Regions from separate parts of the Homo sapiens genome. Here region 1 is linked to region 2. Evidence: fine-mapped expression QTL. A gene starts in region 2. The other region holds a variant in brackets. All regions are shown on one strand. Distances are from middle to middle. Region 1 overlaps C2orf80 (chromosome 2 open reading frame 80). Region 2 holds the start of C2orf80 (chromosome 2 open reading frame 80).

Region 1 (5,388 bases), 22 kb before region 2:
TTCTTTTCATATGAGAACACAGTAAAGGCAATCAATGACAGATTAATTTTATTTTGGATTAACTCTTTGGAAATCTGCCTCCCACTCCATCACTGTGCAATATTCAATGCCACACATTTGTAAAATGTGCTACAAAGCCAGCTTGCTCTAACACAGAAATACTATATACTTTCTGAATTCTCCAGCAGTCTTCCAGTCACAATGAAGTAGCATAAGGTCACAGTTTTTTTTTTTAAGAAAATGTAGCCATGCAATATGCTTCTAAAAGAAGAAAGCTCAACATCAAAAATAACACTTCAGTGCAGTTGTACCAAAAACAGTTGTAAAGAAAAATGTACTGGCAAGAGCTGTGGTTTTAAGATGATGCTTCTCGTCTGCTCCCAGAGAATCTATTATGAAGTTCCATGGTACAATTCCAATTTTCTAAGTGACCTGCAGAATAAAAGATGATTTTGGTATCAAGCACATCAATTTAACATGGACACAGACATTACTTTAAGTCTATAGGAAGTTAAGGTCAAATATCAGATACTAACTTACTGACAAAGATAGATTAGATTAATGTAATTACAAAGGAATTTTCATGGAATTATTCTGATATATTTGGAAATTGAGTTATATTTCCCAACTAAATGCAATATGTGATCCCATACTGGATCTTATACAGAAGGAAAAAAATGCTTAAAAAGAACATTATTGGGTCAATTGACAAAATTGGTGTATAGAGAGTACATTAAATAAAAGTACCAATAATAGATATTCTGAAGTTGATAACTATTCTATGGTTATTTAAGAGAATTACTTTGTTCTTAAGAAATACACACAGAGGTACATAGAGTAAAGTGGTAGAGTATATATACATAACTTCTAATGGCTCAGAAAAAAATTATATATCTTTATCTATATACAGAGAGACAAAGACAGAATATAATAAAGCTAACAGAACAAAACATTAACCATTCGTGACTGTATAAAAGGAATACGTGGGTTCTTTGTATATTATTCTTGCAAATTTTCTCTAAGTTTGAAATTATTTTTACATTAAAAAGTTATACTTCTCTTAACCAATCCTACCCAAAGCAAATCAGTTTTTGGCCTTTTAGCAGTTATGTATTATGCTTGTAGGATATTATTTTGAATTTCTGATGTATTGCTTTGGATTTAAATTTAAATTGTCCTCTCTCTATGTCTCATTTCCTTTCATGATAGCATGAATTTCTCATGAGTGGTGATGAAGAGAGCGATTATATTATTGCTTGCCACTGTCCTGACACTTTTTTTTTTTGAGACGGTGTCTCACTCTGTCACCCAGGCTGGAGTGCATGCAGTGGCGGGATCTCGGCTCACTGCAAGCTCCGCCTCCTGGGTTCATGCCATTCTCCTGCCTCAGCCTCCAAGTAGCTGGGACTACAGGCGCCACCACGCCCAACTAATTTTTTCTATTTTTTAGTAGAGATGGGGTTTCACCATGTTAGCCAGGATGGTCTTGATCTCCTGACCTCGTGATCCGCCCGCCTCGGCTTCCCAAAGTGCTGGGATTACAGGCGTGAGCCACCATGCCTGGCCTGTCCTGACACTTTTCTAAGCCTTTACACATATAACTTATTTAATGCTTATAACAACCCTATGAGGTAGGTACTATTATGACTTTTTAAAGAGATGAAAAACTAAAAGCACAGAGAGATTAGGTAACTCACTCAAGTTATTAAGTGGGTAGCCTGGATTCAAGAAGTATGCTGTATTCTAGCTCTTTAGTATGGTCGTGTTCATTCCAAATTTACTTCCTAGTAATGTGCCCACTACTGACGCTTTCCTAGGACAATGCAATTTAAAAAAAAAATCTTTAAAACTGTTTCCTAGCCGGGCGCGGTGGCTCATGCCTGTAATTCCAGCACTTTGGGAGGCTGAGGTGGGTGGATCACGAGGTCAGGAGTTCAAGACCAGGCTGACCAACATGGTGAAACCTCATCTTTACTAAAAATACAAAAATTAGCCAGGTGTGGTGGTGCACACCTGTAATCCCAGCTACTCAGGAGACTGAGACAGGAGAATCGCTTAAACCCGGGAAGCAGAGGTTGCAGTGAGCCGAGATAACACCACTGCACTCCAGCCTGGGCAACAAAGCAAGACTCTGTCTCAAAAAAAACAAAAAACAAACAAACAAAAAACTGTTTCCCAGAACACTGAGGGTTTTGTTTGTTTGTTTGTTCTGAGACAGAGTCTCGCTCTGTTGCCCAGGCTGGAGTGCGCTGGTGCAATCTCGGCTTAGTACAACCTCTGCCTCCTGGGTTCAAGCAATTCTCATGCCTCAGTCTCCCTAGTAGCTGGGATTATAGGCGTGCACCACCACACCCAGCTAATTTTTGTATTTTTAGTAGAGATGGGGTTTGCCATGTTGTTCAGGCTGGTCTTGAATGCCTGACCTCAAGTAATCTGCTCTCCTTGGCCTCCCAAAGTGCTGGAATTATAGGCATGAGCCATCGTGCCTGGCTGTGATTTTTTTTTTTTTAATAATTTCCTCTTTTCTCTTACTCTATGAAGAAATTCGGTGGCTGGAAATAAATAAAAAATTCTGAATAAGGCATTGTTTTATCTTGAGGTTAAAAAAATTGTTCTTCAGCTAAAAGACATATAATATCTGCAAGCCAAAAAGGAAAAACAGTAAGCTCAAATATTTAAAATGAAAATCTTCTTCAAATACCAAGCTGTGAAAGCATGTTTTTCATCCATTTAATAAAATACTTATTCCTTTAATATAGAAAGAATTCTAACAAACCAGTGAGACATACATATATGTATGTTTATATGTATATGTGTAGCAAATAATTAAATACCATAAGAAATATTAACAGTGGTTATTTCTGAAAAGTGGGACAGGG[G/A]TGTGAAGAAGAGGGAGTTCTTTTGCTTTTCATTTTATATTTTTTGTCTGGCTTGAAAATTTTACTTATAAGTGTGTACACTATTAAAATTTTTAAAACTAGTTTAAAAGATACATTACCCAAGAGTTGGGCCGGGCGCGGTGGCTCAAGCCTGTAATCCCAGCGCTTTGGGAGGCCAAGGCGGGCAGATCGCGAGGTCAGGAGATCGAGACCACGGTGAAACCCCGTCTCTACTAAAAATACAAAAAATTAGCCGGGCGTGGTGGCGGGCGCCTGTAGTCCCAGCTACTCGGGAGGCTGAGGCAGGAGAATGGCGTGAACCCGGGAGGCGGAGCTTGCAGTGAGCCAAGATTGCGCCACTGCACTCCAGCCTGGGCGACAGAGCAAGACTCCGTCTCAAAAAAAAAAAAAAAAAAGAGTTGGAAAAAATGCCTAAAGTGCACAAATAATAAAGTGTGAAAGAAAAAACACAAACGAGTTTTCTGTCGCTTGATTATTAAGAAAGGGCTTTTCTGGAAGGGATTCATCTCAGGACCTGGGGCCCTACTAAAACATGGGCATTTGTTCTTTCGACACTCCTGGGCTCGCAAGCATCAATCAGCCTATAGAAAGGTCTGGTCCCCAGAACTGAGCCTTTGATCACTATAGACAGGGCACAGAGATTTGAGAACCGTCACCTAAGGACTATTCGCTTACTACCTACTGCCAATTCACTAAATAAAAATTGTTACTGAATCTCTGCTGCCTGCGAAGTACTTTATATACATGTGAGAAATACTAAGGAAATAAAAGATATGCTTCCATCAAGAATCAAAAAATCTTCATTGGTTGTGGAAGAAAATATATATGGAACAAAATTATATTTAAAAATAAGATACCAATGAGTAATCTTTAGAGGTAGGTTTTCCTTACATAGGGTCCATTGATGAGGCTTGCGGGGGGTGTCTATAAACCCCTGTTTCAGAGATCTTTTTGTGTGTGTGTGTGATTAAGTTTAAAGTCTAGATTGTGTGTGTGTGTGTGTGTGTGTGTGATTTTTGGAGTTGTTACTGTTTTTTCATTGTTGTTTTGTTTTGCTCTCTAAAACTTGCTGCTTCCAAACACGTATAAAAAATGACCTCATTTTTCAAATTCTTCAAAAAATTCTTCAGAAACAAAGATATGGTTCTAGAAAGTCTAATACCTTCGGCCGGGCACAGTGGCTCACGCCTGTAATCCCAGCACTTTGGGGGGCTGAGGCAGGAGTTTGAGACCAGCCTGGACAACATGGTGAAACCCCACCTCTACTGAAAATACAAAAATTAGCCGGGTGTGGTGGTGCATACCTGTAATCCCAGCTACTCGGGAGGCTGAGGCAGGAGAATCGCTTGAACTCGGGAAGTGGAGGTTGCAGTAAGCTGAGATTGTGCCATTGCACTCGAGTGTGGGTGACAGAGTGAGACTCTGTCTCAAAAAAAAAAAAAAAAGGAAAAGAAAAAAAGAAAAGAAAATCTAATACCTTCAAATCTTATTATAGCAAATATGTTTGAAGGAAAATTGAATATGGTGATAATTTCCCCAAATAGTGCAGTTGTTCTGTTATCAGAATAACATTTATTAAAACCCTGATATGACCAAAGAATTCAATCAGTTCCTAAAGCAGTTGCTATGATAAGGTTACATTTCTAATTAATCAGATATAAGGGACAGAGAAGACAGTTTGCCTCTGAAATCTGAATAAATCCTAAGCCTCATGTAGTCCAGTCTATTCAGAGATTCAATTTAAAAATGCATGGTACAACAGCCAAACTAAATAAAAATAAAATTTAAATTGTCACTTGTTTCCTGATGCAAACCCAATCATAAGTCAGTATATCAGTTCTCAAAGTTCCCTTCCCCGTTTTCTACCTTACAGCCTTCCAGCATATCTAACATCTCTCATTCAACAAAACTCTAAAATATCCCAGAATCCCAGACACCCACCCTGTACCACTTTTCTGATTCTCTCCCCGCTCAGCTTTTATTCTGTTGATCAGAGAAGTCTCTCTGACTTCTTAAATTTTCTCTTCACTTTGCACATTACAGCTGAGAGCCCAGAGCTGGAAGAACAAAGAGCCCTCCTCCCTTTCTCCTTTCTTTCCAACCCTGTCCATCTCCGACCATTCTCTGAATTCCACCACAAATAAATCAGGAATCAGATGGACAGGGGAGGAGCAGGGGAGACTTTAAGCAGGAAAAAAGAAAATTATTATTGCTGAGAGAGGGATCAAGGATAGAAACATTTGGGATACAGAAATTAATACAAACTTTCTCCTCAACATGCTTATTTGCATCAACAGAGTAACAGCCAATTAACTTGTGGATAGTATTTTTCAAATGCTGAAAAGATAATAATAGCTAGTATTTATTTGGGGTTTACTCCATGCTAAGCACTGTTCTAACCTTTTAACATGAATAATCTCAGTTAATCACCCCAACAAGCTTAAGAGGTAGATATCATTATTCTTCCATTTTGCAGATGAGGAAACTA
Region 2 (5,388 bases):
CATGAAATCCACCGAATGCCAAGTGTCATAAATGAAAGTTATTCTCAGTCATACTTACAAGAGCTTTTTCATTTCCTTCTTTATGAGCCTTCTTTCCATGTTAAAGGCTTAGCCAGCTGAGCAGGTATCTGCAGCTAACACTACACTTAGACCCAGCTTCTCTGAGTCTAGAGGCTACAGCAGCAAATCAGAGAGAATATGAGTTAGGGATGCTATCACTCCAAATACCAGTCATGGAGTCCTAGGCTCTGGAAGGGATCTGAGGGAGCACCTCATTCAGGCCTCTTACTCGGCAGGTTCAGGGTCAAAAAGCCACCTGGAGGCTCATGCACTGTACTTTTGTGTTTATTTGACACCTTTTATTCCTTCCAAATTTTTCCAACACTTATTTACTTAATTTACTCTTCCTTGCAATAATCTAGCAAGTAAAACCAAAATGGTTTGTGTAATAGCTGATGAGACTATTCGGGCAGAACCATCCAAACTAGATGGATGTGATCCATCTAGATCTGAATGTGTTTGGGTTTTTCTGTGAGCATTCAACTCCCAGTGAGTTCACCCTGGCTCAGTGGCTCATAATGGAGTTTTCCATAGAATCCATCTACACTCTCCTATTGCCAGGAGATCCTTGAAAGAAAATATGGTTATGGGAAATATGTCTTCAATTCCCACCCCCACATTGAACCAGAAATTGAAGATCAGGTGATGGGGTCAAAAGGAGTCTGAAGTCACCAAAAAGGAGTCTATAGAAAATCATCACTATTGAATGGGGTACACAGGGAGAGGTATAAATAGGGTATCAACTCTATTTGTGATGTTTTATTTATTTTTAAATTTATTTTATGGTTGGGCCTCTATGATCAAATAGTTGTTCAAACTTTATCCCGGATGTTTCTGGTGTTTTTTTTTTAATGAGATTATCATTTAAATCAGTGGACTTTGAAAGCAGATTGCCCTCTATCTGAGTGAGCCTTTTCCAATCAGTCGAAAGCCTTGATAGAACAAAAGACTGACCTCCCCCATGCAAGAAGGAATCTGCCAGTAGGCAGCCTTTGGATTCAAACTGCAACTCTTCCCTGAGTCTGCTGGCAGCTGGCCTCCTCTATCAGATTTTGGACTGGCCAAGACTCCACAATCATGTGAGCCAATTCTGTAAAATCAAAATATTTGAAAGAGATGGTTAAGCCTATACTGCACCGTGTGTGTGTGTGTGTGTGTGTGTGTGTGTGTGTGTGTGTGTATCCACACACATCCTGTCAGTTCAATTTCTCTGAGGAACCCTAATACTCAAATATAACAAAATGTTAATAGTTGTTGACTCTGGAATTCTAAGTCCATGGATGTTCATTATACTACCCTTTGTACTTTTAAAATTGTACGTATATTTAAATCACTACTCTAAAGATGATTGGAAAACAAACTTTAGAAACGGTTTTTTGAAAATGGTACCATATAAACACTAAGCTTCACTTGATTCAGCTCTACCAACAGTAAGCAGAGAGCCAACAGGATGGCGCTGATCTAAATGAATGCTTCCCTAGGCCACCTTCATTATTTTGGATTTTTTTTTTTTTTTTGAGACGGAGTCTCGGTCTGTCACCAGGCTGGAGTGCAGTGGCACAATTTCGGTTCACTGCAACCTCTGCCTCCTGGGTTCAAGTGATTCTCCTGCCTCAGCCTCCCAAGTAGCTGGGACTACAGGTGCACGCCACCAAGCCCAGCTAATTGTTTTGTACTTTTAGTAGAGACCGGGTGGTGTCATCATATTGGCCAGGATGGTCTCCATCTCCTGACCTTGTAATCCACCTGCCTCAGCCTCCCAAAGTGCTGGGATTACAGGCGTGAGCCACCGTGCCCAGCCATTTTGGATCATTCTTGCTGCTGCTACATCTGCTTTAGTTTTTGGGGAGTGGACGGGATGTGGATAAGATGAAAGTGGGGAAGAAAGTAAGAGCATTTCACAGGAAATTGATTAAGTATCAAGACAATAATATTGCTCCCTACAGAGTCAATGGGGAGAGGATGCAGCAAGCCATAGAGGTGGCCCTATTGCCTAGAGAAGAGAGAGCACTGGACCCAGGAAAGCCACACTCATTGATGTGGCTGTGCGTCTTCTGCTTCCCAGCCTCAGGTGTTATCCGAAAAAGATGGGCCTGGTTAACATTGCCAAGAGCACTTCTTACCCTAACATTCTGTAACTCTATAAAGTCTGGCATGCATTAAAATTCTTCTGATTCAATAGTTTGGAAAAACATTTGTTGCTAGACTATTTGGCCTATCTCAATTCCTTGGCAGGGAGTAAGGCACAGTTAGCATGTGCTTTAATCCATTCTTGTCTTGTAATTCTGAGAAAGCCCTTTGAGTTTCAGATTTACAAGTTATAATATTTGCATTGCTTCGTTGTTATGACAGCTTCGTCTTAGATCATCCCTCATCCTCCCCATCCCCTGCCCCCACCACCACCATTCAATATGGTATAATATGCAAAGGTTTCAGTCTTTAAAATATGAGTATGTCCCACTCCCAAACCACTAAACTGTAGGTCAGAAGACCCTGTGAGGCCACCAACTAGCTGTGCACCTTGAACAAATTAATTTGCCTATGTTTTTTCATTTCTTCCTCTGTAAAACAAGCGTTGAATGATTGGAGAGGTCCCTTACAGCTGTGGAAGTCAGTGATTTATATGCATTTAGTAGCTACGCCTGGTCTAAAGAAGGCCATTTGCATGGATTCTAATTCAGCTAGATTTGAATTCTGCCAGTTATCCCTCTTCTCTGTCTATAGAGCTCTAAAGAAAACAAGACCGCTGTGTGTTTTGTGTGTGGCTGAAAGCACACACAAAAGAGGTACTGGAAAGATGTCAGCTGTCTCAGGCTTTAGCTGTTTCATAGAAACAATTCCCTAGAAGTCAGAGCCCCCAAATTCTATAGGAATATCATTTCCTGGAGAATATCTGCACATTCCATGCAGGTTCCCTGCTGCACACCTGCAATCGTGGTACAGGTCTCTCGGGCTGTTCTATTAAGTGCCTGCTCTTAACAAATTCCCCTTTGAGAATCGCTCACCAACCGGAGACCGGTTCCAGTGCTTTTGTTCTTTCTCTGCTTCTGGAGGCATGCTGAAGCATCCGCGCATCTCAGACTGGTGCTCACAGACATCAGGAACACATGCTTTTTCCTGGTTGCTAGGAAACAGTGAATGAATTAAAATCATTTGTTTTAAAAATACACTCCCCTACGCCCACCCCCATTAAGGGTTGAGGGAGGGTGGAAAGTCATATATTTGGGACAGGATTGTGATCCTGGCCTGAAGTTCACGTGTCTTTTTACCTGAGTAGGCTTATGTTTCCCATCTAAATGATTAATTGAAAAACCAAGAGGATGGGAGGAGTTTACCTTCCCCAGAGTTTTTTATAGCATTTGGCTGCAGACATAGGAATCAATTGACTAAGCAAGGATTGCTGGGGAAGCTAGTGAAACTCTGGCTCCTACATAGTTAGGGTGCCCCAAAGTACCCAATGACCCAAAGATCATTCTACTCGATGAATGTCAATACAAAACAGTGGCAATCCTGAAGAAACATCACCTGGGTTCAAGCTAGCACCATCTTTCTAATTATAGATGAGATCCCTTTCATGTGCGTCTGTGTGAAGAGACCACCAAACAGGCTTTGTGTGAGCAACATGGCTGTTTATTTCAACTGGGTGCAGGCGGGCTGAGTCCGAAAAGAGAGTCAGCAAAGGGTGGTGGATTATCATTAGTTCTTATAGGTTTTGGGATAGGCGGTGGAGTTAGGAGCAATGTTTTGTGGGCAGGGGGTGGATCTCACAAACTACATGCTCAAGGGTGGGGAGAATTACAAAGAACCTTCTTAAAGGTGGGGGAGATTACAAAGTACCTGCTTAAGCGGGGGGAGATTACAAAGCACATTGATCAGTTAGGGTGGGGAAGAAACAAATCACAATGGTGGAATGTCATCACTTAAGACTATTTTTACTTCTTTTGTGGATCTTCAGTTACTTTAGGCCATCTGGATGTATATGTGCAAGTCACAGGGGATGTGATGGCTTGGCTTGGGCTCAGAGGCCTGACAATCCCTGCCCACACGCCTGCCTCCTAGTCTTAAACACTTGCTCCCTTGCTTAAAGCTTGTTAATGGTTTCTGTCTGTGTCTCCTCTATACCACTAGACTAGGGGCAGAGTTTGTTCTTCTGGCCCATCTACGGCTGGGTGTCTGTTATTGACACCTCTTAATCTTTATTTCCACTCCTTTCCACTGGCCAAGTAAGTCACTTGATTACCTGAGGTCATATTATGAAAGACACTAACAAAACCCTAGATATAGAATTTTCTAAACTAGTTGTTCACTCCATATTGAGTTTATATTGTACCTAGACACTTCCGGGTTTGGTGAGCCTGAAGTTTATACATTATGGGGACCGTCTTTAATAAAAAGAATGCAGAATTGTAAATATGAAACTAATACAAAATTGTATGTTTATTTAGAACTATTAATTACAAGTTACAAATTTTAAAGAGCTGAAAAATACCACAAACAAAAAATCAGTATTAATATTTTCATGATTACTAACTGCCTAACATACACTAAAATTCCTTTTTTTCTTACATACTCTTTGATTATCTGTTAATAGGACCAAGGTTTCATAGTATTTTCTATAGAGAGAATTAAAAAATAATTCAGTCTCTCCTCTACTATGACTGTTTACTTTTATTTATTTATTTATTTATTCATTTTTTTGAGATGGAGTTTTGCTCTTGTTGCCCAGGCTGGAGTGCAATGGTGTGATCTTGGCTCACCACAACCTCCGCCTCCCGGATTCAAGCGATTCTCCTGCCTCAGCCTCTGGAGTAGCTGGGATTACAGGCATGCGCCACCACGCCCGGCTAACTTTGTATTTTTAGTAGAGACAGGGTTTCTCCATGTTGATGAGGCTGGTCTTGAACTCCCGACCTCAGGTGATCTGCCCGCCTCGGCCTCCCAAAGTGCTGGGATTACAGGCGTGAGCCACCGCACCCAGACAATTTTTTATTTTTTAATTAATTTTTTTTTTTGTAGCAATGAGGTCTCACTATGTTGCCCTGGCTGGTCTCAAACTCCTGGGCTCAAATGATCCATCTGCCTTGGCCTCCCAAAGTGCTGGGATGACAGGCATAAGCCACCACGCCCAGCCATTTTCAATTTATTCTAATATTTTGTTTATAATTAAAACTAAACTGTAGGCTGGGTGTGGTAGCTCATGCCTGTCATCCCAGCACTTTAGGAAGCTGAGGTGGGTAGATTGCCTGAGCCTAAGAGTTCAAGATCAGACTGAGCAACATGGCAAAATCCTGTCTCTACAAAAAATGATAAAAACTAGCTGGGCATTGT

What was found. PIP is the estimated chance that this variant, and not a neighbour inherited with it, causes the effect.
Region 1: its variant is the best candidate, but not a certain one, in a credible set for the expression of C2orf80 in cerebral cortex (GTEx, PIP 0.65).

The regions. Positions count from the first base shown.
Region 1 is chr2:208,165,384-208,170,771 of GRCh38, forward strand. C2orf80 (chromosome 2 open reading frame 80) reads right to left here. Exons shown (of 9, transcript NM_001099334.3): 9 at 1-432. The coding sequence ends at 424. Among named protein-coding and RNA genes, the nearest start is that of CRYGA, 4.5 kb to the left of the region's middle. The variant G/A (reference allele first, on the strand shown) is at 2,880.
Region 2 is chr2:208,186,888-208,192,275 of GRCh38, forward strand. C2orf80 (chromosome 2 open reading frame 80) reads right to left here and starts at 3,143. Exons shown (of 9, transcript NM_001099334.3): 1 at 3,066-3,143; 2 at 59-174. The coding sequence starts at 99.